Linked DNA regions of Homo sapiens. The protein of the gene in region 2 interacts with the protein of the main gene of each other region in a biochemical or structural test. Each region holds a gene or a part of one and is shown on either strand. Other genes may lie near its edges. The genes, in order: TJP1, SLC15A5, SHANK2, APBA2, ARHGEF12, PTPN4 and MPP3.

The links.
Region 1: the proteins of SLC15A5 (region 2) and TJP1 interact in a test that uses a peptide from one of them, tested with the Homo sapiens proteins (one large-scale study listed by IntAct).
Region 3: the proteins of SLC15A5 (region 2) and SHANK2 interact in a test that uses a peptide from one of them, tested with the Homo sapiens proteins (one large-scale study listed by IntAct).
Region 4: the proteins of SLC15A5 (region 2) and APBA2 interact in a test that uses a peptide from one of them, tested with the Homo sapiens proteins (one large-scale study listed by IntAct).
Region 5: the proteins of SLC15A5 (region 2) and ARHGEF12 interact in a test that uses a peptide from one of them, tested with the Homo sapiens proteins (one large-scale study listed by IntAct).
Region 6: the proteins of SLC15A5 (region 2) and PTPN4 interact in a test that uses a peptide from one of them, tested with the Homo sapiens proteins (one large-scale study listed by IntAct).
Region 7: the proteins of SLC15A5 (region 2) and MPP3 interact in a test that uses a peptide from one of them, tested with the Homo sapiens proteins (one large-scale study listed by IntAct).

The regions. Positions count from the first base shown.
Region 1 is NC_000015.10:29,703,313-29,707,476, reverse strand, and holds part of TJP1 (tight junction protein 1), read left to right. Parts: intron 1-1,731; coding exon 1,732-1,949; intron 1,950-3,171; coding exon 3,172-3,315; intron 3,316-4,164. UniProt on the Homo sapiens protein: TJP1, TJP2, and TJP3 are closely related scaffolding proteins that link tight junction (TJ) transmembrane proteins such as claudins, junctional adhesion molecules, and occludin to the actin cytoskeleton.
Region 2 is NC_000012.12:16,242,900-16,247,063, reverse strand, and holds part of SLC15A5 (solute carrier family 15 member 5), read left to right. Parts: intron 1-2,040; exon of another isoform or gene 2,041-2,233; intron 2,234-2,263; coding exon 2,264-2,484; intron 2,485-4,164. UniProt on the Homo sapiens protein: Proton oligopeptide cotransporter.
Region 3 is NC_000011.10:71,245,414-71,249,577, reverse strand, and holds part of SHANK2 (SH3 and multiple ankyrin repeat domains protein 2), read left to right. Parts: intron 1-4,164. UniProt on the Homo sapiens protein: Seems to be an adapter protein in the postsynaptic density (PSD) of excitatory synapses that interconnects receptors of the postsynaptic membrane including NMDA-type and metabotropic glutamate receptors, and the actin-based cytoskeleton.
Region 4 is NC_000015.10:29,053,278-29,057,441, reverse strand, and holds part of APBA2 (amyloid-beta A4 precursor protein-binding family A member 2), read right to left. Parts: intron 3,598-4,164; 5' UTR 3,558-3,597; coding exon 2,607-3,557; intron 1-2,606. UniProt on the Homo sapiens protein: Putative function in synaptic vesicle exocytosis by binding to STXBP1, an essential component of the synaptic vesicle exocytotic machinery. May modulate processing of the amyloid-beta precursor protein (APP) and hence formation of APP-beta.
Region 5 is NC_000011.10:120,475,614-120,479,777, forward strand, and holds part of ARHGEF12 (rho guanine nucleotide exchange factor 12), read left to right. Parts: intron 1-1,047; coding exon 1,048-1,135; intron 1,136-1,605; coding exon 1,606-1,692; intron 1,693-1,833; coding exon 1,834-1,913; intron 1,914-2,542; coding exon 2,543-2,776; intron 2,777-4,164. UniProt on the Homo sapiens protein: May play a role in the regulation of RhoA GTPase by guanine nucleotide-binding alpha-12 (GNA12) and alpha-13 (GNA13). Acts as guanine nucleotide exchange factor (GEF) for RhoA GTPase and may act as GTPase-activating protein (GAP) for GNA12 and GNA13.
Region 6 is NC_000002.12:119,961,902-119,966,065, forward strand, and holds part of PTPN4 (tyrosine-protein phosphatase non-receptor type 4), read left to right. Parts: intron 1-714; coding exon 715-843; intron 844-3,595; coding exon 3,596-3,744; intron 3,745-4,164. UniProt on the Homo sapiens protein: Phosphatase that plays a role in immunity, learning, synaptic plasticity or cell homeostasis. Regulates neuronal cell homeostasis by protecting neurons against apoptosis.
Region 7 is NC_000017.11:43,812,361-43,816,524, reverse strand, and holds part of MPP3 (MAGUK p55 subfamily member 3), read left to right. Parts: intron 1-445; coding exon 446-487; exon of another isoform or gene 488-945; intron 946-1,881; exon of another isoform or gene 1,882-2,163; coding exon 2,164-2,328; intron 2,329-2,433; coding exon 2,434-2,514; intron 2,515-4,164. UniProt on the Homo sapiens protein: Participates in cell spreading through the phosphoinositide-3-kinase (PI3K) pathway by connecting CADM1 to DLG1 and the regulatory subunit of phosphoinositide-3-kinase (PI3K). Stabilizes HTR2C at the plasma membrane and prevents its desensitization.

The DNA.
Region 1 (4,164 bases), on a different chromosome or scaffold from region 2:
GCTCTGCACATCCACAGATGGTCAGGGGCGGACAGAGCTGGCCTCTGCTCTGCAGCTCAGGCTGCGCTCTGCTCCCTTGATGTTGTGTCGTAGGATGTCGTCCCTGGCACTCCGGTCATGCTGGAGTGAAACGGCAGCTACCTTCATGTAATTCTGTTTCGTTGGTCTTTCTGCTCACCTTTGAGCCCTGGCTCAAAACTGTACTTTCAGGAAGTTGATAGCCTCTACTTTTGAAGCAGTCATTGATACCACATCCCCTTTGCCTTTGGCGTTCTGTGATTACTAAGTTAATCTACTGTCTCTCTTTCGTGGATGTTTGGGATATGCCCATACAAGGGTCTTCGCCTCATGGAACCTTGGAAGCCTTGCCTCCTACAGCCAGAGCGGGCGCTTGGTCCTCAGGGAATGCTGAGGCAGGACCATACTCAGGCACACTTAAAATCCTAGGGAGATTTTATCAAGTCTGAGATGCTGTCAGCCGTGAGATGCACCATTGTTTTGTGTCACTAAAAATGGAAGAACAGCCAGGCACGGTGGCTCATGCCTCTAATCCCAGCACTTTCGGAGGTTGAGGCGGGCGGATCACTGGAAGTCAGGAGTTCCATCCTGGCCAACACGGTGAAAACCCATGTCTACTAAAAATACAAAAATTAGCCGGGCATGGTGGCAGACGCCTGTAATCCTAGCTACTCAGAAGCTGAGGCAGGAAAATTGCTTGAACCTGGGAGGTGGAGGTTGCAGTGAGCCAAGATTGCACCGCTGTACTCTAGCCTGGGTGACAGCAAGACACTCCATTTCAAAAAACAACAGGAAGGGAAGAACAGGGCTACCAATTAAATTGTGACTTACCAGTTTTAAAGTTCCAATTTCATGGATTTTAAAATGTGCTTCATAAAACTCTGTACCTGTTTAGTATCCCTTGTCCAAACTTCTTGGGTTCTGAAGTGTCTCATATCTTGGGTTTTTTTGGATTTTGGAATATTGCCAAAATGCTCCAATGAGCATTTCCTTTGAGCTTCATTTTGACACTCAAAAAAAAGTTTCCGATTTTGGAGCATTTCAGATTTTCAGGTTAGGGATGCTTCACCTGTAGTTGGGTGTTCAAGGCATCAGATTTTACACTTTCAGGTTGCAATTCATTAATGAAGGTCGTTTGACTAATTGCCTTCAAAAATTGAATTTTTGACATTTCTCTAGAATTTTTGAAATTTTCTAGAATGGAATTTCTCTAGAAATAATATTCTCGCCAGGCGCGGTGGCTCACGCCTGTAACCTCAGCACTTTGGGAGACCAAGGCAGGTGGATCACGACGAGATCAGGAGTTTGAGACCAGCCCGGCCAATATGGTGAAACCCCATCTCTACTAAAAATACAAAAATTAGCCAGGCTTGGTGGCGTGCGCCTGTAGTCCCAGCTACATGGGAGGCTGAGGCAGAAAAATCACTTGAACCTGGGAGATGGAGGTTGCAGTGAACCAAGATTGTGCCACTGCACTCCAGCCTGGGCGACAGAGTGAGACTCTGTCTCAAAACCAAACAAACAAACAAAAAAGAAATAATATTCTCTGCGATAACCCTGTCAGTAAAATCTGTTGCCAGAAACTTATCTTGTTAAAGTAACTTCTTGATTATATGGAGAAATAAAAGTGAAAGCACGTAATACAGTAGTAGTAAAAGCAAAGCACCTGTGTATTATTAGGAATTCACTCACTAGCCATTTCTGAACTTTCAGTCCTTCAGCTGTGGAAGAGGATGAAGATGAAGATGGTCATACTGTGGTGGCCACAGCCCGAGGCATATTTAACAGCAATGGGGGCGTGCTGAGTTCCATAGAAACTGGTGTTAGTATAATTATCCCTCAAGGAGCCATTCCCGAAGGAGTTGAGCAGGAAATCTATTTCAAGGTCTGCCGGGACAACAGCATCCTTCCACCTTTAGATAAAGAGAAAGGTAAATGTGTTTATTTTTCTCCTTAGTTTTGATAACTTAAGAGTTGCCCTGTGTGCACTTCAGAGCTTATAGTGCTTGGCTAATAATGCAGCACCTCTCTATCTCCAGATGAGTGCTGTAGCGAGGGGTGCCCTGGGGACGGTGTTGCAAGCAAGCAGTGGGTGGCCTGAAGCAAGGCTGTGGTGACCACACTGCCTGCTTTTACTTTTGGTGTGAAATAAAAAATGATGGCATAGGACAGGCCACGGGATGTCTCACCTGCTGAGCAGCCTAGGCTGACCTAACCAAATTTGTCTTTGAATCAGTCAGCCTTTGCGTCTCTGGAGATGGGTTAGGTAACACCCACTCAGAAAGGCTTTGCTGTGCCTTCACCTGATTGGAGAACCTAAACCTCTTGACAGGTACTGTCTTATTCATCACCCCAGAACCTAGCACTAGTACATGCTCAGCAGAGTGCATGAAGGAGTCTCAGAGGAGATGACAGCATGTTTCTGAGCTTCTTAAGGAAACTTATTTTCATAATCCTCCTGGATCTACCAGGATATTATAACGAAGTGTGTTGTGATTTAGCATCTTTTAGCAGTGCTTTTACTTCCTAAACAAATTTAGTTCGCTTTTTTGTATTTTGCCGGAATACTGACATCTGATTCTGTACTCTGATTTTGGGGATATCCTGTTTTAAAAACCAGTAGGACTGACTGTGTTGGCCCTGCATGAATCTCTTTAACCACCTATGGAGCAAACAAAACATTTTGAAAATGGAAAATATATCACATTCGCAACAAGCACATTTGAATATGTTTTTTATTATAGACCCATATGATTGAATGCAGTAGCCACTGCCTGCACGTGGCTAGCTAGCACTTGAAGTGTGACAATTTGGGATTGAAAGATGCTGGAAATGTGAAATACACACCAAGTTCCAAAGATTTCATATATTGATTACATGTTGAAATAACAGTGTTTTCGTTATATTGAGTTAAAATATTAAAATATTGTAAGATTTGATATCACTTGTTTCTTTTTACTTTCTAACGTGGCTACTGGGAAATTTAAGATTCCATATGTGGCTGCTGTTACGTTTTTTTGTGGTCAGTGCGACTGTAGAGAACTAACTCCATTAGGCTTTCAAGCATATAATTAGAAGCAGGGTGAGGAAAACTGGGATTCTAGAAGAAAGACCACATCCATCCTCTCTGCCTATCCCCTTTTCCAACTCCAGGTGAAACACTGCTGAGTCCTTTGGTGATGTGTGGTCCCCATGGCCTCAAGTTCCTGAAGCCTGTGGAGCTGCGCTTACCACACTGTGCGTCCATGACTCCTGACGGTTGGTCTTTTGCTCTAAAATCATCCGACTCCTCGTCGGGTATGCTGTCTTCACTCTGTCCTTTGGGAGCTTTGGGGACTGTCGTTGATTAATACCTGGGCTGATGATGCTGCCCATGCTGTGTGTTAGCAAATCTCTATCTCTGTTCCTGTGGCCTTGTAGGCATCACCAGTGTTTTCACATTTATTTGTGGTGCATATATTGTAAATAAATATGGAAAGGTAGAAGACTTTCTGCCTTTTAAAAATTGATAATTTGGGCCGGGCGCCGTGGCTCATGCCTGTAATCGCAGCACTTTGGGAGGCTGAGGCAAGTGGATTACCTGAGGTCAGGAGTTCAAGACCAGCCTGACCAACATGGTGAAACCCCATCTCTACTAAAAATACAAAAATTAGCCAGGCGTGGTGGCACACACCTGTAATCCCAGCTACTCGGGAGGCTGAGGCAGGAGAATTGCTTGAGCCAGGGAGGCGGAGATTGCAGTGAGCCAAGATCGTGCCACTGCACTCCAGCCTGGGCAACAGAGCGAGACCGTCTCAAAAAAATTTTTTTTTGATAATATGGCCAAATATTGACTATTTCTTGGTGTTCAGAAAAATGATTTATTCTGTCAAATTTTTCAGGATGCAGTGGGAGATATTGTCCTGCACAAATAGGCATTTTTACCTTATTAAAATGACTTTGTTCCTTTATATAACTATTTCTATTTTTGGTTACTATTGTTTAATTTATTTTTTGTTTGTTTGTTTTGATTTGGTTTTTTGAGGTGGAGTCTCGCTCTGTCGCCCAGGCTGGAATGCGGTGGCACGATCTCAGCTCACTGCAACCTTCGCCTCCCAGCTTCAAGCGATTCTCCTGCCTCAGCCTCGATTACAGGTGCCCACCACC
Region 2 (4,164 bases):
TATGGACAGTGACATCTTATGTCTGTTGAATCTAATAATAAAAATATCAGGGCTTATATTTTGTATGTCTTTATTTTATGTTTAGATATTTCATTTTTATTGGATTTCACAAATGAATTGACCACGATAGTTGAGATATTTTTTTAAAAACTCATTTTTAACACAGGTTGAAAAGCACTAATCTGAACTACCACTACCTCTCATTAGAAATAAAATGATGGCAATATTTAATAATTTAATAAGATTGCAGGTATCAATTTGTCATGTATTAGAAGCAGATCCAAGTTTATCTTGCAACAAATAGTGATTGTTTATACAAAAAAACGGTTAGTGAGTTTAAAATATATTATATTTAATACAAATTCCTGAATTTTAAAAATTGGGGGGAAACTGGGGAAAATATCTTTGGAAATAATCTTTCATCCTGCAAGTACTTATCATTTAATAATCAAACCTATCTGAAAGCATAAAGTTAATTTGGATCAGTGTTCATAATAACCCTACTATCTACCCAGCACCACTCTGCAAGAGTTTAGCAGAGAACAGGTTGATGAGTAATAGAGACAAGATTGTAAGGAAATGTCAGGAAGTTAAGCCACCCAGCCCAGGCTTGTTCGAATTCAGTCTCCAGACTGTTCATCAACACATTCTCTGTTCTCATCTTACCTAAACCTTAAGTAAACTAATTGAAATAGCTAGGAAAGTCTCATAATAGAGCAGTTCATTCTCTAATAATAAAGAGCAGTCCCTATTACTTCTTTCCTAAGAGAAACAAATCTTGGCCTCTCACAGTGGCTTCTGTCTTCTTGGCCTTACCAGTACCTGGGCCTTCATCTACTTCAGGCAATAGTGACTAAGAAGAGACAAAAGTGACCATAGATATAAGCCTATCTCCTGTTAGCAAGTATCCCAACATACTCCCAGATGACCTAAACACACTTCACAAAGGCCACCAAAGAGCCACAGCTGTAATCATTCTTGGTCACTACCAATTTGGGCTGGATTTGATTCAGTGACTTAGAGGTGAAAGGCTCCATATTCAATTACCAGGCCCCCAGCTTCCTCAATTAATCAAAGGCTGACATAATGGGTCTATTACAACTCTTGAAGAAAAGACCAGATCAAATCAATCTAACCACTTTATAGCTATAAAAATATATTAATACATATTCTTTATTTAAACATAAAAACCAAGACTCTATGGCATATAAATGAATTTCATTAGAATGCATTTTATCTAGAATTTTATTATAGGAAACTTGAACATAATCAAAATGACTTTCAAACTATACTTTGAGTTTCTATAGCAGCCTTCTTTGGAGAAACACAAACATTTTCACATTTATTATGCCATTTACCTGGCAACAGTAGTTTGGTGTCTACGTAATTTCTGGGGGGATTTATCTGGTCAAAGGGAGTGCTATGAAAACCTGTAACTATCATGACAGCACAGCTGAACTGCTGCCTAAACGGGGGTCTCTTATCTGTCATTGTATCAGGAAATCCTAATGGAGTCAAAGAAAAGGTAGGAACTAAAAGATCATAAAAGAAGCAACAATGAGGTTGCAAATCACTAGCAGTAAGTGACTGCTGCCATCTGAAGCAATAAAGCGCTTCTGATCGTGCAGCAACAGCCATGTAAACCTAGAAGAAACTACTGGAAAAGTCAAAAGCCAACTAATCTAATCTGAACTCTTAATGACACTATCAACATGCATAAAATCATTTAGAGAGTTCATAGTCTAACCTTATTTCTAAATCCAAGGATAAAGTCAAAGCAGAGATTACATTTCCCTTCATCTCCATGTCACAATAAGAAGCCACCCTCTACCTGCCAAGTAAAATGAGGATTATTTATATAATAATTTATATGAAAAAATAGTACTAGTTCTTTGTGTTAAGGATGTTAAAGAAAGTTCAGTTTATTGTATTCATTAATGCATTAAAGTTAGAGACTTCTGAGAGATTCTGAAGTCCTTAACTTTGGCGTATTATTTTGTCACCTTTCTTTCCCTTTTAATATGTTTTCATTGATCTTACCTTTTACACTTTTGACATCAACTGCTAGGTGCCACCATGGGCTGGTCATCAGGATGCCAGAATCACTGTCAGAAGCGTGGTCCTTTGAGTCCGACCCCTTGGGTGCTAAAAACTTTCTCACTTCACTGCCGTGAATCCTTGAATCGTTATCTTTCTGATCAGCATCTTGAAAAACTGGAGAACAATTCCTATACTAATACATAATATCTCCGATTACTTGCAGGTTGTTCTCTCCTGACAGGCGTTGGGGTGTTGGTTAGTGCACTGAAAACATGCCACCCGCAATACTGCCATCTTGGCAGAGACGTGACAAGCCAGTTAGACCATGCCAAAGAAAAAAATGGTGGCTGCTACAGTGAGCTCCATGTAGAAGACACAACATTTTTCCTCACCCTTCTCCCTCTCTTCATTTTTCAGCTCCTATACAGAATGTGCATTATGCAGGTAAGGACAGGCGATGAGTACTACCCCAACAACAGGAAAGTGATTGCATGTCAACAGTGCAAGTCAAGGTGAATTTTCTCCCCAACGAGCGCTTTCCATATATGTCGGCAGGCAGTTATCCCCACAGAAACTTCTCATCATTACAGGCTCTGATTTCCAGAGCTAAGCGGGGTCAGGCAGAGGTATACCTGAGGAGACCCTGGGATGTGTTTCTTTTGTGGAGCTATAAATGTCTGTCAGTAGGTGCAGACAGTACTTCAGAATGCATAGTCGTAAGGCGTAAGAGCAGTGCACGAACATATCAGATCTGTAGGCAATTACCAAACTTCCCTTTAGCCAAAGGTTTTGCCTTCCTCCCTCATTAAACCTTTAGAAAGTGGTACTAACGAGTAGCTAAACTGACTGATTTGAGTACCACCTCCACTGTACTCTTAAATATAAGTACTAATGAGCAAGTGATTCTCTCCCCACCCACTCTATTAGTTCCTTGGGGAATTCGTTCCTGTGCTGTGAGAAAATCAAGAGAAAATACAAAGCCCAAAGTACCTTTTATAGATATATGTGATTTTAAATTTTTTTAATGTGGTTAGAGTTAAAGACTAACTTATTTACTGAGAAAAATAAATGATTACAAAAGTATTTGAACAAATCTGGGACTTTGTTCATTGCTAACTCCCAACTTGGAATTTAGAAGACTCATGAATGAGTTACATTTAGAAATCATAGAATAATAGAGCTGCAACAAAATTTAGAGATTAACTTCATAAACTACTTTATTTGTTAAACAGGAACCTTAGGCTCAGAAAAATTAAGTGACTTTCTTTTGGTAGAGGTGAGGCACCGTAGGTCACAGTTAATAGTAGTGTAAGGGAAAGCGGAATCTGTCCTCTGCCTCTCAGTACAGTGCTTGCCCCTCTAAACCAGGGGTTAGCCATCCACTATCTGAAGGCCAAATCCAGTCCACTATTTTTGTACATCCTGTAAGCTAAGAAGATTTTTACATTTTTATATGTTTGAAAAAAATTAAAAAAAGAATAGTATTTTCTAGCACATGAAAATTATATAAAATTTAGCCCAGCGTGGTGGCTTACACCTGTAATCCCAGCACTTTGGGAGGCCGAGGCAGGCAGATTACCTGAGATCGGGAATTCGAAACCAGCTTTACCAAAATGGAGAAACCCCGTCTCTACTAAAAATACAAAATTAGTCAGGTGTGGTGGCCATGCCTGTAATCCGAGCTGCTTGGGAGGCTGAGGCTGGAGAATCGCTTGAACCCAGGAGGCGGAGGTTGCGGTGAGCAGAGATCATGCCATTGTACTCCAGCCTGGGAAACAAGAATGAAACTCCATCTCAAAAAAAAAAAAAAGAGAAAAAGCAAAGAAAAATATATAAAATTTAAATTTTAGCGTCCATAAATGAAGTTTTATCAGAACATAGCCATGCTCTTTGTTTTGTCGTATCTATGTCTGCTTATGCACAAAAATAGCAGAGTTGAGTAATTGCCACGGAACCCATATGTGGACATATTTACTATCTGGCCCTTTACAGAAAATTTCTTGACCTCTAGACTAAATAATGCATGAAAGCTAGTCTGATTTAGAAGATTCAAACTCCCTCTTGACTCTATAATAGCAGTAGGCACAAAAACAGAATACAGCAGAAATATTACCCATATATGTA
Region 3 (4,164 bases), on a different chromosome or scaffold from region 2:
CTTACCTGCCTGCAATTCCAGCCTCCTGCTTTGTAAACTCAAGCCGGAGCTTTCACCTGGGGCTGTTGTACCTGGAGTCTGAGGGCCCCTCCTTGGGGCAGCAGGGAGGGTGTGGCTGAGAAAAACCAGTGGAAATGGACGCGCACAGCCTCTTCAGGAGCCTCCACTTCTCCTGTAACTGGGACTGTGAGCCCCAGGGAGGGACCCTTGAGAATCTTCTTGCCTCCACATGACCTCCAGCAAAGTTCTTGACCCTGTCCGTTTCTATAGACTGGGGAATTTGTGGAAGAAAGGGAAGGAGAGGGGAGAAGGGAGGATCGCTCCAGACAAAGGCGGGTCTTTTCCATCTCTGGAGTCCCCCACCCCTTGCCATTCACCTGGGCACCGGGAGAATGAATCACTTGTTGAGAGGCTGTAAGCATATTGAGTGCAGGGCTTGGAGCCTGCAGCCCCCCAGGGCTAAGTGACCTTTGTGACTTGGCCACTGCACCTAACCTCCCACCCAAAATGAGAGGCCTGTCATTCTCTCATGGTCAGAGGATATCTAGGGTGTATTTGTTTCTTTCCGCGTGAATAATCATCTGAGGGCCTGCTGCCACATCCAAGCCTGGACTGGCCACAAGGGCTGCCTCCGGGAGCTTCTAGGATAATGGGGAGGAAGAGGCGTGACTGGACAGTCCAGTTAGTCCGTGTTGTGACAGGGCTTGTGATGGAGGTGAGCATCGAGTGCTGCAGGGCATAGAAAGGGTCCCCAACCCAGCGTGGGGTGGGGTGGGGGGATACAAACCCTTGGAAGAGGTCTGGGTTGTTTGATTGCATCCTCCTGGGACTGAACATGGGCCTTTGGCAGAATGACCCAGTCCTTGTTCCCAGGGTGGGGACAGAGCCACCCGCTAGTCACAATAATAACGTCAGGAGCTGCAGCGCAGGTAGTGAGACTCTCACCGAGCATTTTCCTTTTGATTGGCATTAGTGCCACACTCTTGCTATTTATTCCCTCAGTAAATCTCAGAAGTCCAATGAGCCAGCTCCGATTCATTACGATTCCCATTTCACAGATCAGAAGCTTGAAGCTCAGAGGAGTGAAGCCGCTTGCCTTAGCCCACACAGCTAGTGGGTAGGGGAGCCCTTGACCCCACACCGCCCGGTGGTTAAATGCACGCTGCCCAGCTGGAGAAAGCCGCCAGGCAGCGGTTAGAAAATTAGTCTTCTGGTTCCCGTGCTGTGAAATCGCGCTGCGGTCAGCAGGTGAAAACCAGTTTCTCATCATACTTCTTGATGTGCCCCACGTTTTCCATTGTTGAAGGCAGATTCAAGGACTGGTTTGATGCCGCTGATGGACGGCTGTCTCCTTGGCCATGGCGCCAGTACTGATGCTGGGCTTTGGGGTACAGTCGCCTCTGATGCAAGCCTTCCCTGCATTCTAGGGTTTCTGTTCTTTGCAGGGCGGGGGACAATGGGCCCATGCCCACTACCCAGAGCCTGCCCTGGGTTTAGGGACCATAGCCTGGGTCTCTCTGGATGCACATATGCCGGGGATGGGCCTTCAGGGAGGGACTGGCTGAAACGCAGCTCGCTCCCTGGGAGATTAAGTTCTTAAAAGCCTGTGGGGCTGCCAGGAGTTTGCTGGCAGCAGCAGGGACATGCTGGGCTCCCCGATTGGCTGCCAGATGTCATTGCCAAACCCGGCACTGCACCAGAGCACGACTGGGGACAGTGTTTTAAAATTGTCCTTGCTGGGTATGGTAGCGACTCTGGGGTTAGCTCAGTGAGGGGCGTGTGAATGGAATTAGGCCACAAACTCCCAATCTGAGGCTGCAGATTCCAAATGGTGGAATGCAGAAGGGCTCCTGGCTCCCCGTCCCAGAAATTCTGCTGCAGCAGAAAGGCAGCACGGGAGCTCCCCCAGAGGGAGAGGAAGATCAGCTGGAGCAGCCCTGAGTTGCTGGACTTAGAAAGGCCTCACCAGAGACCCCCCAGGAGGCGTGCATTAGAGGTCATAAGCACTGCAGCTCTGCCATGGCCCTGCTGGGCTGGGGCCTGCCTCTTCCATTTTTTTTTTTTTGTCTGTCCCTGAAAGTGTTGTTTTTTTTAAAAAAAACAGCTTGTTCTCTCATACATTTTCTGCAACAATTTTTTATGAAAAATTCAAATATCCAGCAAAGCTGAAACAATTGCCAGTAAACTCCTTTCAGATTGTGCCATTCATCATTTACCAAGCTTCTCACACATTTTAAAGTCAACGTCTAAAATTTTTCTTTATAGGTTTAAATATTTGTAAAGGCTACGGTACCTCTGTGAGGTAAATATCGATATTTTAAAAGGAACTGTTGCCTGACTCTTTACCCACTGTGATATAAACCCATCGTGACTCACAGCCACTTTTTCTTGACGGATACGTAAGTGAGCTTTAGGACATTTTCATCGTTCTTTTCTTGAATTTATACAGCCACTTCCCCAAAGAATTTTATCCTAATGTAATAGACTTTTATGCTCATGGGTCTTTTATTAATCAACCTAGCATACTTCTCTGCACGAAAAATATACATAAATTGACTTTCATAAAATTTCCCATGACCTGGAGTTGCTAAGTATTTAAAAAAATTACTTCTGAATTGAAAAAGCTGTACAGTCATTGCTGGGGCGCAGTTGGTCAAAAACTATAAATATATTACAGATTTTTAGAAATGGAAAAGGGGAGCTGTTACTGGAGCTGCCTCTCTGAGTGAGAAGGCAGTGGGTGTTTTTGGTGTTTTAATTGAAGCCCTAGTTGCATTAGCCCTTTTGTTTTGGTATCAGGAGGGCCCTTCACCTGGAGCTGCACCACCCCCTCACCAGCTTCCGGGGGATAGCTATGCCTTTCTTATGTAAAAGAGCCTCAGGGATGTTAGGGAGGGGAGGTGGGCAGGGGATCCAAGGCCTTTCTCCACTGAGCAATTTCAGGAAAGACTTGGCTACCCTTTAGACTGAGCTGGGTCTACGTGGAAAGGGTCCTTGCACCTCAGTTTGAAGCCCCCTGCAAGGGAGATCTTAGTTCACAAGATTACACCTGTACTCAAGGTCCTGCAGGTGATTCTTACCTGGGGACAGTGATGATACTTACGTGAAGGCAGTGACATGTGATGCCAGGTGTGTGCTCTGCATACTGCCAGGCTTTGCTGCCTCCCTGCAGACTTGGGGGTGTCCTGCCCCACGTCTTCCTCACTCCGGCTCATCAGTCCCCTCCTCTTCTCAAGGAGAATCCAGAGTCAGCACCTAGAGTCCTCGGTGGGGGTGGGGAATGGCCAAGAGTCTGGACAGCTGGCAGTCTGCTCCCTGGTCCACTGGGGTGGGTCCTGGGAGGCTTAGGGCCCAAGGAATGGGGTGCAGGGCATCCTGGGTTTCCAGACCTGGAGCTGACACAGACTTCCGGGCTCCTGGGAGGTGGGAAATGAGCTTCCAAGCCTGTCTTTCCTGAAAATCCTGCCCTGGATTCCTTCCCTGGGGAGAATGCAGGCTTCCTGGGGAGTGGAGGGGGATGCTTCTGTGGCCTCATTTGTACCCCTGAGAGCATAGGGCTCAGCCGTTCCTGTCCATGTTTTTCCTGCCACCCCGCACAAATGTCCCTGGGATTTGAAGAATCTGCTCCACTCCCCTCTTCCCGTACAGGGGCCTGCAAACTAGAGGCATTTGCCCCTGGGCCAGCCGGGCTCCTGTCTGACCCCTCCTCACGAGGTGGACAGGTCCCCCAGGAAAGGGACCACGCCTTGCTCCTGTCTGCATTTCAAGGTCCTACAGTGGCCCCAAGCATGGACCAGGGGACTTTGGCAGGGGAAGATACTGACCCGATGGCGTCGCTACTGCCCCTCGTCTTGGTTCTGGACTTTCCCTCCCTCGAGGGTCATTCAGCTCCAGTGGCTGAACTTGCCGAAGGTCGTGTGGCCCAGCTGGGATCCACACCTGGCGGCTGCCCACTCCACCGTGCAGAAGAAGGCACCGGTCGCTTCCCCGGCCTCCAGATTGCCTCCTGGGTGGCACACCAGTTTATTTTTCTGTTCACTTTCAGGTAAAGCAGATGAGGTAGCACAGTGGTTGTCAGACTTCTAGCTTAAGGAATCTTTTTTGCTCTCTTAGCATTTTGAAGGACCCAGAAGCTTTTTATGTATGAGCACGAATCTATTGTTA
Region 4 (4,164 bases), on a different chromosome or scaffold from region 2:
TATTGCCATTCGTGCAATGACTAAATGCTATTCAGTCCTCTTCAAAATATCCAGGACACACTTTTTCAAGCTGTAAAATGAGTAGAAGAGAGGGGAGGGTTGCTACACAATTTCCTCCAAGTGAGTCTCCTACAGCATCACAGCTGGAATGTGGCATCTTGTTGAAATGCAGATTTCAGATTCAGCAATGTGGGGGCGGGGCTCCCCAGTAATGCCAATGCTGCTGGGTTAGGGTTAAAAACAGGAGTCTACAGCATCTAAGTGACCAATATTGCCCATTTCTCCCTTCAGATTTTTTTTTTACTGCAGCCTCAACCATAGGGATCACTACACTATGTGGACAGCACTGGGATCAGAGAGGTGAGCATGGGACACATGGCACCCTGTGCACCTGCTTGAGGCCAGGCCTTTGTTGGCTCCTGGCACGGCCTGGCTGTCCCCCAGGGGAGGAAGGGGATTGTTCTTAGGAAAGCAGGTTGTTATTTCAAGCAAGGCAGCACCAAATCTCCCAGTGCACATCCTTCATAAAAAATCTTGCTTTCAAGATGAATTCTACGGCTCTTTCTGGTCAGGTTTCAAAGAGGTCCTCATCTGGAATGGGGTACTCAAATCTAAGAATGTGGAGACCCTGCCCACGTGCAGCGGGCCTGGTAGAGTCTTCAGAAAGAGTAGTCAGGGCCCCTGGCACCAGGGTACTTGTCAGCCTGGAACTCTGGAACTAGCAGGTGTTCCCCTTGACAGAATTAATTTGTGAACTGATAGGAAAGAAAGAAAGAAAGAGAGAGAGAGAGAGAGAGAGAGAGAGGAGGGAGGGAGGGAGGGAGAGAAGGAGGGAGGGAGGGAGGGAGGGAGGGAGGGAGGGAGGAAGGGAGGAAGGGAGGAAAGGAGGAAAGGACAGAAAGGAGGGAGGGAGGGAAAAACAAAACAAAACAAAAGCTATACAATCATTAACCAGTTTAAATGAACTTTTCCAGTGTCTCAGACAAGAGCATGTCCTTCAAGGACACATTCTCCTTAGGGGGAGAAGTGACATACTTTTTCATTCAATGCCTCTTCTGGGAAGAACAGACATCCTCTTGATCCTCCACAATGGCTGGGGACTTCCCCTACCTCCACCTGCCCTTTTAAACAGCTACTATCACCCATCCATCCATTCATTCCCACTCATTTACCTCCCAGCTCTCCAATCGCAAGATCTCTGTGTTTTTACCCAAATTACCATCTGGTTAGCATGAAGCACAAAACCAGAAAATATCAGGTCTTGCTTACTCCCCACCACGCTCTAAAGATAATCTTCTTTGACAAGAACTTGGCTAGCGATGCCATTTGTCACAATAAGACGCAGCATGTCACACGCTCTGCACAGCCCACGTCAATCCCTGAGGTGCCTTCACCACTGTTGTGGGACAAGCCCAGGCCCTGCTAAAGACCAAAGAAACACTTTGCTTTGGCCTAAAGCCCAGACCCAGGGTCCAGAGCCTCCTGGCCTTAGGGGTGAACTCTCCCAACACCCACTAGTACCATGGGAGCTCCTATGCATCCCACAGCCCCCTGTAAACACGGAATTGCTGTGAATGACAGGAACACCCCCAAAGTGAAGTCAACTGACACTTAACGTTCTTTAGAGAGAATACAAGACATTAAAATACAAGTGCTGAAAATCCAGGAGTCAATTAAAATATAAGTGCTGAAAATCCAATGATTTCCATTCCAAACCCAAGCTCTCAGTACACACACACACACACACACACACACACACACACACACACACACTCAAATTCATGAACTCTTCTCGGAAAAAAATATTTAACAGTTAAGGCTGTAAAAAAATATGACAGAAGTCCACATAATTGGCCAAATAGAAGTTCCTTCACACAAGTCCAATAATCACATCTTCTTTATATACTCACAGTGAGGCTTTTTTTGGAAGGTGGCTTTTCAAATGTGTTTATTAGAATGCACGCTGACTTTGCTATAATTAAAATACAGTTATGCTGACATCCACTGCCCTCATTAGCATGCGTTTCTTCCCCGAGGTTTTGTCAAACCTTCAAAAAATCCTTTTCCAAATAGGTATTCACAGCTGATTGCCCATCAGGCCAAGGCCCCCGGGCTTTCAGAGACCCGTCCATTGTGAAATGCACTCTGGCCCCGACCCCAGCCACCAGGCCACCCAACACTGGCCGCAGCAGTGGGTGAGCACCAGCACCCCCACGTCTTTGCCACTGCCCTGCTGGTCTGAGTACACCCCTGAGGATTGAGGGGCTCTCCCACACATACTGCCCCACCATGAGCAGACCAGGGCAGTGGGCAAGAAATCGAACCTCTCTTCTAGGGTGGGAGGAGGGGTGTCTTCTGCGAGACACGAGTTGCCACTCAGCCCTCAACCGGCTTTAGTCCTGAGTCTGAGCGGTGAGCTTAAGAGTGGCCGGAGCATCCACGCAACATGTCTCCCAACTGGACCAATGAAGAGCTCAGCCACCATTAGAACTGTGAGGCACCCAGCACCCCCCACCGCCTCGCTTCAGCATCTGCAAGGCCTGTACCCTGAGGTCCCTTGCTCTCGGGCCCCTCTGCTCCCTTCCCCAGGACAGCCAGGGTCCTACCTGCTCGTGGGGCCACTTCAGCCTCTCTTCTGGGGTCCTGGTCTTGGGCTTGAAGCCTCTCTGGGGGTCTCCGGGGTGCTTGGCCTCGGGAAGGAGGTTCAGCGACTTGGGCCTCGCCTCGTGCCTGCTGGGGCTGCAGCTGGCCTTGATGGGTGGGCAGGCCTCTACAGAGTCCTCAGGCCCTGGCTCAGGCCCATGCTCGGGGCTGGCCTCACTGGCGCTGGTGATGCTGGTCATGCTCAGACTCATCTTGATCTCTGCCACGATCTGGTCAATGTCCTCCTCCTGGTCCTCCAGGTCCCCATCCCCACGCCTCAGGCGGTAGGGGGAGGCGCCGGTGTTCCCGTTGGCCTCCTCGGGGTAGTAGTCCTGGTAGCCCTCTTTGCTGGCACAGTAGTGACCATCTTCTTCCTGGTCATGGGCCTCAAGGACGGAGGGCTCATCCTCCGGAATGGGCAGTTGGCCGTCTGGGTAGTCCTGGCTGCCTTCAGCCTCGTGGCCGTGGGGGTGCGGGCCCGCCGAGTCCGTCCACTCCTCCACCGCCTCCTGGCACTCATCAGTGTCCACAGGGTGTGCACTGTGGGCCAGGTACTCCTCCCCGTTGCAGTCCATGCCCTCTAGGTAGCTGTCGTCCTCAGGGCAGTAGCGGATGTAGTAGGTGATGCCCTCCTCCTCCTCAGGGAGGCCCTCGTCATAGTCCTCCTCCTCAGAGGTGTTGTTCACGTAGTCAGAGCTGGAGTCCCCATCGGGGCTGTGGTTGTGGCACTCCTGTTCCTCTGGCGCGGGGCTCTCTGGCCGCAGGGCAGCCAGCTCCAGGCCCTCGGGCACATAGCCCTCCAAGGGCAGCTCCATGTCCTCGCTCTCGGGCTCCTGGCTGTGAGGGACAGGACCTGGTCTCACCCTATGGTCCAACATGCCGCTCCCCACGCTCTCAAGCTTCCGGTGGGCCATGGCAGTCGTTCACACAGCCATCATCACCCGGAGGCAGCCACTGTGGGGAGGAACATTGGGAAGGACAGAGTCAAAACCCCACAAAGCCCAGCCATGTGTGGGGCCACTTCACCACAGCACCTCCCACCACGTCCTCCCGCAGCCATGTGAGGGCACATCTGTTCAAACAGTGCGCCATCCCCACCCCCGCTAACTCATCATCAGAACAACACGCATCCACACCAAGGAGAACGAGGGCACACAGAGCTCCGGGAAAAGCAGTCAAGGGAGGCACCGGCAACTCACGAGGACACACGCCTCTCCCCAGGAACCTACCGGCTCATTCCTGACTTCTCACTCAGTTTGGGTAGCCCAGGTGACCAAGACAAATGGTCAGAAGATCAGGTTGTTTGCTCTCACGAAGAAAATGAGCAGCTTTCATTAAGAAGACATAATGAGGACCAATGAGGAGGGACAATAACTCTTCCCAATCTAAATCCATGACCCCTCAAAGACTATCTTGGGTACCTTCCCCTTCAGGCTTATCCCATCCTCTCCCTCCTCTTCCCCCTCAAACTGAACAATGTTCACCGAGGAACTGGATGCGCAGGGACCATCCAGGCTGAGC
Region 5 (4,164 bases), on a different chromosome or scaffold from region 2:
TATATTCTTAAGCAAATTACATGAAATTTACTGCTTAGAAAGAGACCTAAGAGTTTATACCCCAAAGTTATTAGGGTGTCTCGATTCTGTGAACAGTTTTCTGCATTTGAAAATTTTTATGCTATTACTTTGGTTCTTTATGTTCAAATCATTGATAGATCCCAATGAAAAGCCTTTCATTTAGGGTGGTATGTTTTTTGATTTGGTGAGAAAAAAATCAAAAACCAAAGAGACGGATGTAGTGTTGATTAAAAATCAAATTTGACTGGCAAGTTATATTTTAACTCTATTAACAACGGGGTCCCTTTTAAAACTTGTTAGTTTCATGGTGGCAAAATAAATTTGTGACCTCTTTTCTCCACTACTCACTGAATATTATTAACTAACAACTTAGCAAAAGTGCAGTTCAAAATAAATGCAAAAGAGTAATAGCATTTAATCTGGTAATTTGGATTTATTTATTTTTTTTCTTTTGAGACGAGGGTCCCACCCTGTCACCCAGGCTGGAGTGCAGTGGTACAACCTTGGCACACTGCAACCTCCACATCCCAGGCTCAAGCAATTCTTCAACCTCAGCCTCCTGAGTAGCTGGGACTACAGGCATGCACCACCATGACCTGGCTAATTTTTTTGTTTTATGTAGAGGCAGGGTTTCGCCATGCTGCCCAGGCTGGTCTCGAACTCCTGAGCTCCAAGCGGTCCACCTGCCTCGGCCTCCTAAAGTACTGGGATTACAGGTGTGAGCCACCGTGCCCGGCCAGTAATTTGGATTTTTGACATGCTTTTAGCAAAGTTTCTAGTAAATTATTGTGGAATTAGTGCTAATTCGTATAATCTTTGTTTTATTGAAGTACAATAAATATAGTACAATAAATACGTTAATATGGTAAGTTGCACAAATTTTAAGTGTACATCTTGATGAATTTTAAAGTAAATATATGTAACCTTTATCTAGTTTAAGGGGCAGACTATTTCAAGACCCTAAAAACATCCCTCATGGCCTCCCCAGGTCATAGTATTAGAGTAATCTTGTATTGTTTTTTCCAGATAACAAAGCTTTATTCGTCATTTCCATGTCAGACAATGGCGCTCAGATTTATGAACTGGTGGCACAGACAGTTTCTGAAAAGACTGTGTATGTATCAGATATGGCTACCTTGCTATAGCTAATATTTTCATTATCCCAAGCGTAATATTCCATAAACTTAACTTTGTTTTTATAATGTATGGAAACCAAGCACTTCCTCTGTACTCTTTTAGAGACGTTCTACTATGAACTTGTTCTTTTTTAGGTTGATGCCTTTTATTTTGATTCTATTCTGAAAGTTTATTTCCTAAAGAAAAAATTGTGCAAAATGTCAAGTGAAGTTTTTTTAATGTGTCCATAGATTTCTCTTAAGGTATAGTTTTGGACTCTCGCCTTAATAGTGTGTTGCCAAAATAAAGATATTCTCTGGCAGAGTGGGTTTTGTTGTTGTTGTTGTTGTTGTTGTTGTTGTTGTTGTTGGTTGATTTGGTTTTTGTTTAGTTTTGCTTTCTGAGTATATTTAAAGGATATTTCTTTTTTCTTTTTTGTATTTTGGATTTCTTTCCAACTTTCTGAAGCTGGCAGGACCTAATCTGTCGGATGGCTGCATCAGTGAAGGAGCAATCCACAAAGCCAATTCCATTACCACAGTCAACACCTGGCGAGTGAGTGTTCCTTTGCATTGTAGTAGGACTTATTTTATGTTTTGGGTTGGAAAAGACTAGGATAATTATTATGTTTTGTTGCGATGATGTTTAGATACCTCAGGAAGGTAAAAGTTTTTTTTTTTTTTTTTTTCTCTACAGAGGAGATAATGATGAAGAAGATCCTTCAAAATTAAAAGAGGAGCAGCATGGCATTTCAGTCACTGGTTTGCAGAGTCCAGGTACACTCTTCTGAAGAGTTCAATGGAGAATGTGCTCTATTATCTGTTAAAATGCTGGCCGGATGTGGTGGCTCATGCCTGTAATCCCAGTGCTTTGGGAGGTCGAGATAGGCGTATCACCTGAGGCCAGGAGTTAGAGGCCAACCTGACCAACATGACAAAACCCTGTCTCTACTAAAAAATACAAAAATTAGCCGGGCATGGTGGTAGGTGCCTGTAATCCCAGCTACTTGGGAGGCTGAGGCAGGGAGAATTGCTTGAACCCAGGAGGCGGAGGTTACGGTGAGCCGAGATCGTGCCATTGCACTCCAGCCTGGGCAACAAGACCGAAACACCAAAAAAAAAAAAGAAAAAAAGAAAAAAAAGAAAATAAAATAAAATGCAAAGAAACTTTAATACTGTTTGGTTTATGCAGGTTCCAGCATCAGAGATTCAGTTTAACAAACTTTGCCTTTGAGCCTTCTGTGTGTCAGTATAACACTGTTCTAAGTGATGTGTATTTTTCTTAACAGATGATCTCTGTAGTTTATGGATTGTTTTTTTTTTTTCTGATTCTTCCCTGAATGCTTCATGTTAAAAGTTAAAAGCTTTGTTTAGATATAGTCTACCTTTTCTATTCCATTGGACAGACAGAGATTTGGGATTAGAATCTACCTTAATATCGTCAAAACCTCAGTCTCATTCACTGAGTACCTCTGGGAAATCAGAGGTACGTGATCTGTTTGTGGCTGAGAGACAGTTTGCAAAGGAACAACATACAGATGGGACACTAAAGGAAGTTGGAGAAGATTATCAAATCGCAATCCCAGATTCACACCTGCCTGTCTCAGAAGAACGGTGGGCATTGGATGCACTAAGAAATTGTAAGTTTTATTCATAACTTATTACAGATACTTACTAAGTATGACACTCATGTGCCATCCCTAAAGTATGTGGATTTATCAAACTCCACTTATTCTTCTAGTTCTATTGTGGAGATTATAGTATTCTCTACAGTGGCCCATGCCACAGGCACACACACACATGCCACTCTGTTAGCTCCCCACCCCCCTGCCTGGTTCAGAATCACTGTTAAAATGGGAGGATAGCATATCTCTCAGTTGTATTGAGGTGGGAAAAAGGCTGAGAACAATTTCTTTGGCTGGGGAGAACCACTTGAAATTTTTAAACCAGCGTATGACTAAAGGTATGAAAAAAGATTAATCTGGCTGAAAGCGGTGGAAGGATTTGAATGGAAAGAGGTATGGAATGGTGTACTTACTAAATAAGCTATTATAATAGTCTGGCCTGAGACTAAAAGAGTTTGGACTAGAATGTTATCAGAAGGAATAAGAAGAAACTGAGAAGTCATCAAATGCTTAAAATAATTGACTTCTTTGAATGTGAGGTCAAAGGAAAGGGAATATTTAGAGATAATTTCATTAATCTAGTCAGAAATAAGAGTCAGAAAAGGACTACCACTGCTTCCCCCACCTCCTTCCATTGTACTTTCTTTTTTCTTTCTTTTGATTTGGTAGAATTATAGGCTCAGTTTTAAAGCATGTCAAGATTAAGATAATGAATGACAAAACACTAAAAAGTGAGTAACTAGCAGGAAGTTAGAGTTTTAGGAGTGAAACTTTAGAGAGAGGTTAGGAAGAGATAGAGATGTGAGCATCAGAGCCATGAGACTTCCTGGCATCTCTCAGGAAGTGATTGTAGAGCAGAAGGACAGAGGATGAGAGACCTAAGTGGAACCTGTTGCCTAAAGAAACATGACAGACATTAAGCTAGTGATGAGAGCAGAGAATTGGTTATTTAAAACCTACAATATTTTTTATACCTTCTCCTGAATTAACAGTCTTAATAATTTCTGATGGTTGGAATAACATTGTCCCAATAACTCTATCATTGTCTGGGTGACCTCATAGCATACACTTGGCCCATTCAAAATTAAATTGGTTCTTATTTTCAGTAAATGTATGTATCTCATAAAATTAGAGGAAATAATATGCATATAGTGTCTGGATCTGGAAAAAGCAGAACTTTTTTTTAGCTTTTTCTGTCTAGCTTAACACAGCCTTTCAACATTCTTAAGAAGTACCTTTAGGGTATTATTCTAGTTATATAGAAGAAAAAATAGAGGCATGATATTGGTTATTGAGGAGTTCTAAATAGTAGTATCTCCCTATTCAGAATGCTTAGATCTTTTCAAGTTTAGTTTAACGTTAAATCTTCTCTAAAAGATGGTGCTTTATTTCATCTTCAAAAC
Region 6 (4,164 bases), on a different chromosome or scaffold from region 2:
GAAGAATGAACAATGACTACTAATTGGTATAGGGTTTATTTTGGGTGTAATGGGAATGTTCTAAAAGGGATTGTGGTGATGGTTGCACAGTTCTGTGAATATACTGAAAACTATTGTATACATTAAACGAGTGAACGGTATGGTACATGAATTACTTGTCATTACAGCTGTTTTAAAAAATCTTAAGATTTAATGAGGATTTTTGCTGCCTCAAAATATAGCCAGATTACTTACTATTAAAAAGGGAAAAAAGTGACAAAGAAAAAATGTCGGCTGGGCGCAGTGGCTCACACCTGTAATCCCAGCACTTTGGGAGACGGAGGCAGGTGGATCACCTGAGGTCAGGAGTTCGAGACCAGCCTGACCAATATGGTGAAACCCCGTCTCTACTAAAAATACAAAATTAGCCAGGCTTGGTGGCACATGCCTGTAATCCCAGCTACTTGGGAGGCTGAGGCAGGAGAATCGCTTGAACCCAGGAGGCAGAGGTTGCAGTGAGCCAAGATCGTGCTATTGCACTCTAGCCTGGGCAACAAGAGCAAAACTCCATCGCAAAAAAAAAAAACACTAGTCAGCAGATCGAGATGAAATTTATTAAATTTTTCTTGTAACTTTTATATGTTTGAAATTTATTAAAAAAACATTTTTAAAAATTGGAGAACATGAATCCATATGTATATAATTTTATTTATTATTTATTTATATCAATATCAGGTTAAATGTCACCAATATTGGCCAGAACCCACAGGCAGTTCATCTTATGGATGCTACCAAGTTACCTGCCACTCTGAAGAAGGAAACACTGCCTATATCTTCAGGAAGATGACCCTATTTAACCAAGAGGTAAGAAGGCAGGATATCTGTTCATTAGAACTGTTGTGTTCAGGGTAAAGACTGAAAGCTGAAAATGTTTTTAGTTTGAGTATTGGTTGCTAGGAAATACTATAAGAATTATTGAATTATTTATCTGCTTTAATGGGGTACTTTGGAATTTTATTAAGAGTATTATCCTATTCTATTATAAAATTAATGTTTTTCTTTAGTTTCTATGACTAAATATGAATGGTCAGTGAAAAAGTAGTCTGGTAAATAATACTACTGTTACTACTTTGCTTATTCAGAACAACTGTTTAGATATGTTTCATTATAAAAAAAACTTTTACTCCAAGTAGTATCAGTACAGTATTTGGGTGTGTCTGTGGAAATGGAAAAAACAATTGAAAGCTATTAAATTATTTTCCTTTTTTAAAAGAGTAGAGGAGAGCAACTTCACAGTCCCCTACCTATTAAGAAGGAAAAGGTTGTAACCAGGACCTTCTGACAGCAGATGGGGTGTAGATTTCTAATTGCCAGCTCTTAATTTTGCCTGAGTCAGTCCTCTTGGCTTCAAATGAAACTGATTAATAAATGATGGCTCAGTATCCCAATTGGAAGATGTATGTAGAGAGCGTCATGCTGCCAGTTCTGTCAGGCTGCTAGAGACAGTGCACCCTACTTTCTCTGCCTGCAGCTAGCTATCCCCCTGCCACCATCTTTGGTTTTGAAAGGGACTAAAAGAATAACTGCTAGAGAAGAGCAAATAGCCCAAGCTATGAGTGCCCAGGACTATCCCATCAATGGTCAAGCCTTTGGAAATGAGAACTCCCCTCCAACCCCAAGAGCATGATTAAAGGAAACCAGAGAGACAGAGTCTTACTGACGAAAAGGGAAGAAGCCAGAAGTTGTGCTGATTTATAGAAAAGGAATCTGGCATTGAATAAAGCTAAAATGACAAGAATTTTAAAATTTCAAAATTTTATGGGCTAGAGTCCATCAGAATGAATTTAGGGTTTGGGGACATATACTGTGTAGCTCATGGTCTAATGTAACAGGTCAAGCCAATATGATATTTCTTCATTTTCTCAAATAGATAATGAAAGATAGGCTACGTATGTTTATATAAAATAATGTCTATCTTTAGCATAGTCTCTATTATACTCCACCTGTAGATTATCCATGACAGTTTTATATACCATAGTGGCTTTTCTTTACACACCCTGAGTACATTAGAACTAAGACATGAGTTAGTTTCTAAAGTTTGAGCCAAACATAATTGGGAAAATGAGTTCGCTCCCATAAATACATACATACATGGATGGATTAATGATAGCAGATACTACCTCAAGTCTTGAATACCTTTTACTTTTACTCTTCAGGAAGCTCTCTTCAGTGTAAATGGCAATAACCATAGTTATAATTATAGTGTTGAATGACTATAGCAACCATTTATTGAGTATATGGTGCCAAGTAGCTGATGGGGTGATTTACAGGTCCTCTCATGGAGTCTTTTTAGCATAAGACTGATCCTTTAAAGTATAGATGTTATTTCATTTTTCAGTTGAAGGAAATTATTTTCTGAAACACTGAATGCTGTAACTGGCAGAGTCAAGATTTGAACCAAGATGTATCTAAACGCAATACTCTTACTGTCTCCGTTATACCAACCTTGGCTCTCCAAAAAGAATTAATCCCACTGATTTGACTTTGTGTTTTTATTAACTCCAATTTTTAATATACATTTATCTTGAGATTTTATTTTTCTGATTTCCATAATTTCATCTGCATTGTGTGAGGATTAGGTCAGCTTTGTTCACAAAAAATGTTTTTTACTTTACCATTTTTGCTCACCCAAGAATTCATTAGTTTTTTTTAAGCATTTCTCTGGGTCTTAATTTGTTTCTACCTATGTACTTGATTATCATCTTTAAAATACTTTACACATATAGAAATTGAGTTATAAAAAGAGTAGTAATGTAATTAGCCATACTTAAATGGATACAACTATTTCTGTAAAATAGTTTCTTTCCTTTTTGTTGAAATTTTGCATTTTAATGAGTTTATACATAACTTTTGGTGGAGAAGAGGAGTGGTTGGTTTTGCTTTCCTTCTAAAATTCCAATGACATGAATATATTTTAAAGATAATGTCATAGTACCAACAGGTTCATATTCCTGCTGTGCAATAACAGACGAATACACTGAGACAGCAGGGATGCAGCAGATAAAGAGTTTAATGATCGCAGGGTACCGAGCAAGGAGATGGGAGGAGACCCTCAAATCATCTCCCCAAGGAGATGAGATCTGGGATGGGGTTTTTAAGGGGATGGTGGAGAGCAAGGGGCTGGGAAGTTAAGATCGTTGATTGGTTGGGATAAGGTGGATGAAATCATCAGGAGGTGCATTCTTTGGTGAGTTAGCTTACCTCAGGGTCCTTTAGACCAACTGAGTCAGTAGTTTCATCAGTATGCAGGACCCAAAAGAATGTCTCAAAGGGGAAATCTAACATTTCATAATGTCCCAAGTTGTTATCTGTAGAGCAGTTAAGGGGAACTATAATCTTGTAATGGGTCTGTGGGATTCTGAGGCAACAGGCACCAACCAACTATGAGGACGCGGGTCAGAGAGCAGCTGACCTAGTGATCAATGCTAAGTGTGCTGCAAGCTGTGTTTAGTTTTCTATCTCCCCCTCCCTTCTTTCCTGATGAATTTTATGAGGTTTGTAGGGACAATTTCAATAATACATAAGTCAAGGTGCATAATTTTTCATTTGTTCTTAGAAAAATGAAAGTCGTCCACTCACTCAGATCCAGTACATAGCCTGGCCTGACCATGGAGTCCCTGATGATTCGAGTGACTTTCTAGATTTTGTTTGTCATGTACGAAACAAGAGGGCTGGCAAGGAAGAACCCGTTGTTGTCCATTGCAGGTACTCTGTTTTCCGTCTTTTATGAGTGTATAGCTGAACAGATACGTCATTTTTAAAAGAGAGTACATATTTTGTCCTTATGGTGTTATTGTCACTGTAATAATTAGAACTCAAAGCTATGCTCTGAAGGTAGGAGGCAAAGGATATGTTCTAACATATGATTGGCAGTAACTTTATCATAAGATATAAAAATAATACTGATTGCACTGATTCTTAGATGCTCCTCCTTTTCATATTTTAACACCTCTGAAATTGGTCTTAACAATTTACAATAGATTTGATGAAGTACAGTACTGTGGGCTGTCTTAGTCCATTTGTGCTATGTAACAAAATATTCGAGACTGGGTAATTTAAAAGGAACAGAAATGTATTTCTTATACTTCTGGATGCTGGGAAGTTCAAGATCAGGGTACACACAGG
Region 7 (4,164 bases), on a different chromosome or scaffold from region 2:
GTTCCTTGAGGCAGGCAAAGCTGGTGGGGACAGGGTTCAAGGCCTTAGGGGCACCTCCCTGCCCTCCTGACACGTGCGGCCCAGCCTTTCCAGGACTCGGCTACGCTGTGATGGGGCTGGATAGGAGACAAGGGGTGGGAGGGCAGGGCAGGCTGGAGTGAATCCCTCCCTATTCACACTGCTCACACTCAGGGACTGGGGAGGCCTGCTGGCCTAGAATCCCCCTCAGGGCCTGGAAAGGCTGTTAGGGGCCTAAGCATGGAGAACTGAGCAAAACAGAGGACCTTGCTTTCTTGGGGTGTCCAGGACATGGGATTTCCCCTGAGCTCCCCACGAGACACCATCCCAGGGGGCTCTTCCTGCCTGGCCATCCAGGGGCTGGGTGCCCTGGGCCGGATGTGTCTGGTGGGACTCACTGGCTTCCCTCCCTCTGTTTGCTTCCCAGAGACCTGTGACTGTGAGGGCTACCTCAAAGGGCACTATGTGGGTAAGTAGCTCCCCCTGACACCCACATGCACGACCTGCCCCACCCAAGGCCCCAGAGTTAGGGAGAGGTCAAAGCAGGGTGATCTGAGCCCCAGGAGTCCTTCTGGAGCAGTGGAGCCTATGGGACCCCCATCTCTCCTCAGTTCTCTCAACCCAAGCAGGAGCTGAGCCTGCCCAGGCATTGGGCCCCCACCCAGCTTTTACCCAGCTGTGGGGCACACTGCCCTGGCGGGAAAGGCACACACACCCCTACATTAATACCAATTCTATTATCACCATCATTGCAATTGGAGTTTATTCAATATTAACACCACTACCACGCAGTGAGGGGTGTTTGCGGCTCTCCAGAGCCCCTTTTCACTTGTTTTGGTCAGTTTTTTCAAAGGTCTTAGAGATAGGCAAAAAGTTTTTTTTGTTTTTTGGTTATTTTTTAGAGACAGGGTTTTGCCCTGTCTCTCACGCTGGAGTGCAGTAGTGTGTGACATTGCAGCTTGCAGCAGCCTCAATGTCCTAGGCTCAAACAATCCTCCCACCTCAGCCTCCTGAGTAGCTGGGACTGCAGGCATCTGACACCATGCCCAGCTGATTAAAAAAATTTTTTTTGTAGAGATGGGGTCTCGCTATGTTGCCCAGCTGGTTTCAAGCTCCTGGCTTCAAGCAATCCTCCTTTCTAAAAAGTTTTTAAACTTTTTTTAAACTTATTTTTTGAGATATGGTCTTGCTCTGTTACCCACACTGGAGTGCAGTGGTGTGATCACAAATCGCTGCAGCCTCAGCCTCCCAGGCTCAAGCGATTCTTCCCTCTCAGCCTCCCTAGTAGCTGGGACTACAGGTGCATGCCACTATACCTGGCTAATTTTTGTATTTTTTGTAGAGACAGGGTTTCACCATGTTGCCCAGCTGGTCTTGAACTCCTGAGATCAAGTGATCTGCCTGCCTTGGCCTACCAAAGTGCTGGGATACAGGCATGAGCCACTGCACCCAGCCCCTTAACTTTTGTCCTGAAGTAATTTCAAACTTACTGAAAAGGTGTAAGAATTATACAAAGAACTCTCATATACTCCACACCCAGATTCACCAGTTGCTCCTTTGCCATGTTTGCTCAATTTCCTTTCCCACATCTCTGAATTTTTTTTTCCTGAGTCATATGAGACTTAGTTGTAGACATCGTGTCCCTTTAACCCTAAATCTCTCAGCATGTATTTCCTAAGGCCAAGGACTTTCTCAGGGCAGTGATCAAATTCTGAGAATTTAAAATGTATCCAAATCTGTTATATGCTGTTATTTAAATGTTAACAATTGTCCCCATCATGTCCTTTATGACATTTTCCCTTGGTCCAGGATCTAATCTAGGACCACACATAGTAGTTGTAGATTCATATCTTCATTTCACAGGTAAGGAAATTGAGGCTCAGAGAGATGAAGGGACTTGTCCAAGGTCAGTCACATGCCAAGTAAAACAGTGACCTTAAGCCCTAGTTTGTGAATGCAGGGGTCACCCTTTCATCTTATTATTGTATTTCCTGAACAACCTCTTCCAGTAGCAGGAGGAGGTTGGGAGAAGTCAGTGGGACTCAGTCCCATCTCCAGGTCTGGCCAGGTGGGAAAAGTCTCTACTGGGAGATCCTGGGACAACTGGGACAAATGCCATGGTGTCCCTCTGCCCCTCCTCCCAAGCTGGTCTTCGGAGGAGCTTCCGGCTGGGCTGTAGGGAGAGACTGGGTGGCTCGCAGGAAGGAAAGATGTCCTCCGGAGCTGAGTCTCCGGAGCTGCTGACTTACGAAGAGGTGGCCAGGTACCAACACCAGCCCGGAGAGCGGCCCCGCCTGGTGGTTCTGATCGGTAGGTGCCATCCTGGGTTTCCAGGAAGTGATCTGGTTTCCTCCCTGGAGCAGGTGGGGAGGGAGCTCAGCAGGGACCCTGGTCAGCCTTCTTCTTGTTTCCCAGGGTCTCTGGGAGCCCGACTGCACGAGCTGAAGCAAAAGGTGGTGGCTGAGAACCCACAGCACTTTGGCGTCGCTGTTCCACGTAAGAGGGCCCATGTGGGAGTGTGTGTTTGTCTGCACACACACAAATATTCCATGGAGACTTAACTCCCCAGATCCATCCAAATCCTTACTTTGGGTTTAAAGGATCACCAGGCACTGCCTGCTATTGGCAAATTGTGGGACAAAGGCATGATGGGAAGAAATCCACTCCCAGTGGTCCTCTGAGACCCTCTGAGGCAGAAGTTGGAGGACCACTTGCTTGGTTCCTGCCTGGGGTGGGAGATGAGTCCAGAGCACATTGTAGGCAAAGTGGCAGCCTCAACCTGACACCACGGGGCCCCCACAGTAGGGGGCATTCCTCCTCATCACAGTGAATTTTGACTCCTGTGGCCGCTGCCCTCTGCTTGGATGAGAGGGCAGGTCAGAGAAGCCACAGAGCCCTGTGAGTGGTATTTCTCGGCACTCCCTTATAGCCAGATTCCAGTTTGTCAGGGTAGCTGGGTACATTCCTGGGTGATGCCTCCCCTGCCAATTCCTGGGGCTTACTGCTGCCAGGGGCACCCTGGGATGTCAAGCTCCAGTGGGCAGAGGATCCTGGTTCTGAATGTGATAAGGAGGATGAGGAGGAGGAGAATGAAGGTGCCAGGTAATGCACCAAGAGCTTTTATGTGTAGTGCCCTGCGTCAGCCCTCCCAGTACCCCTGAGAAGAGAGATTGTTATCATCTTGTGTGGCAGAGGAAGACAGTGAGGGTCAGAGAGGTTAAGTAACTTGTCCAATGTCACACAGTTGGTAAGTGGTGGAGCCAGGATTCATACCCAGGCAGCCTGCCCCAGTCATGTTCTTAACGAGGATGCACAATGGCCTCTCACCTGCCGCCTCCCACTTCGTGCCCTTGGCTGCCCCTTTTCTTTCTGGGACTCACTCTCAGTCCCCCTGGCCTCAGAGGGATGCAGTGTGAATGCCTGGTGGCTACTGAGAGGGGTGCTGTGGGGGCCCTAATGGGGCCTCCTCAGAGTGTTCTGGGGCAGAGCAACCATGAAGCCTTGCTTTGATCACACCGCTCTCCCTGGGCCCCTGGGCCCAGCGTCTAGTCTGTGGGTTGTCAGAGCTGTCTTCCACAGCCCAATCTGAAGTGGCAGGGATGTGGGGGAGGTGGTGGCCCTGGGGAGGCCATCCTGGCAGCACACCTGTGATGGACCTGGAGGGCTTCAGGGAGCCACGGCCTTCCAAGTTTCAGGTGGACTGAAACAGGACATGCAGAGGTTGCTCACACACTGATCGTTCAGAACCCCTTGGATCCACCCCCTGGAGAAGAGGTACCTGGATGGTCAGGCCCACCTGCTTCTAGGCACTCCACAGATAGGAGACTTTCCTCCTTTGTTTTAGAAACTGGGGGAGTCAGGGAAGCCTTCCCAGAGGCAGTGACTTTTATGCTGGGTTCTGAAGAGTAAATAGGAGTTTTCCAGGCAGAAGAGAAAGGAATAGTTCTCTTTACAGAGGAAACAACATGTGCAAAGGGACGGAGCAGTGTTGGGGACCGGGGAGATTAGTGTGGATGGTGTGCTGGAAAATGGAGCTGAGAGGTTGGGCAGATCACGCAGGTCTCAGATACTCAGCTAGGGTGTTTAGAATGTAACCCATAGATAAATACAAGTTTTTAAGCAGGGGGATGACATGGTTGGAAAAGT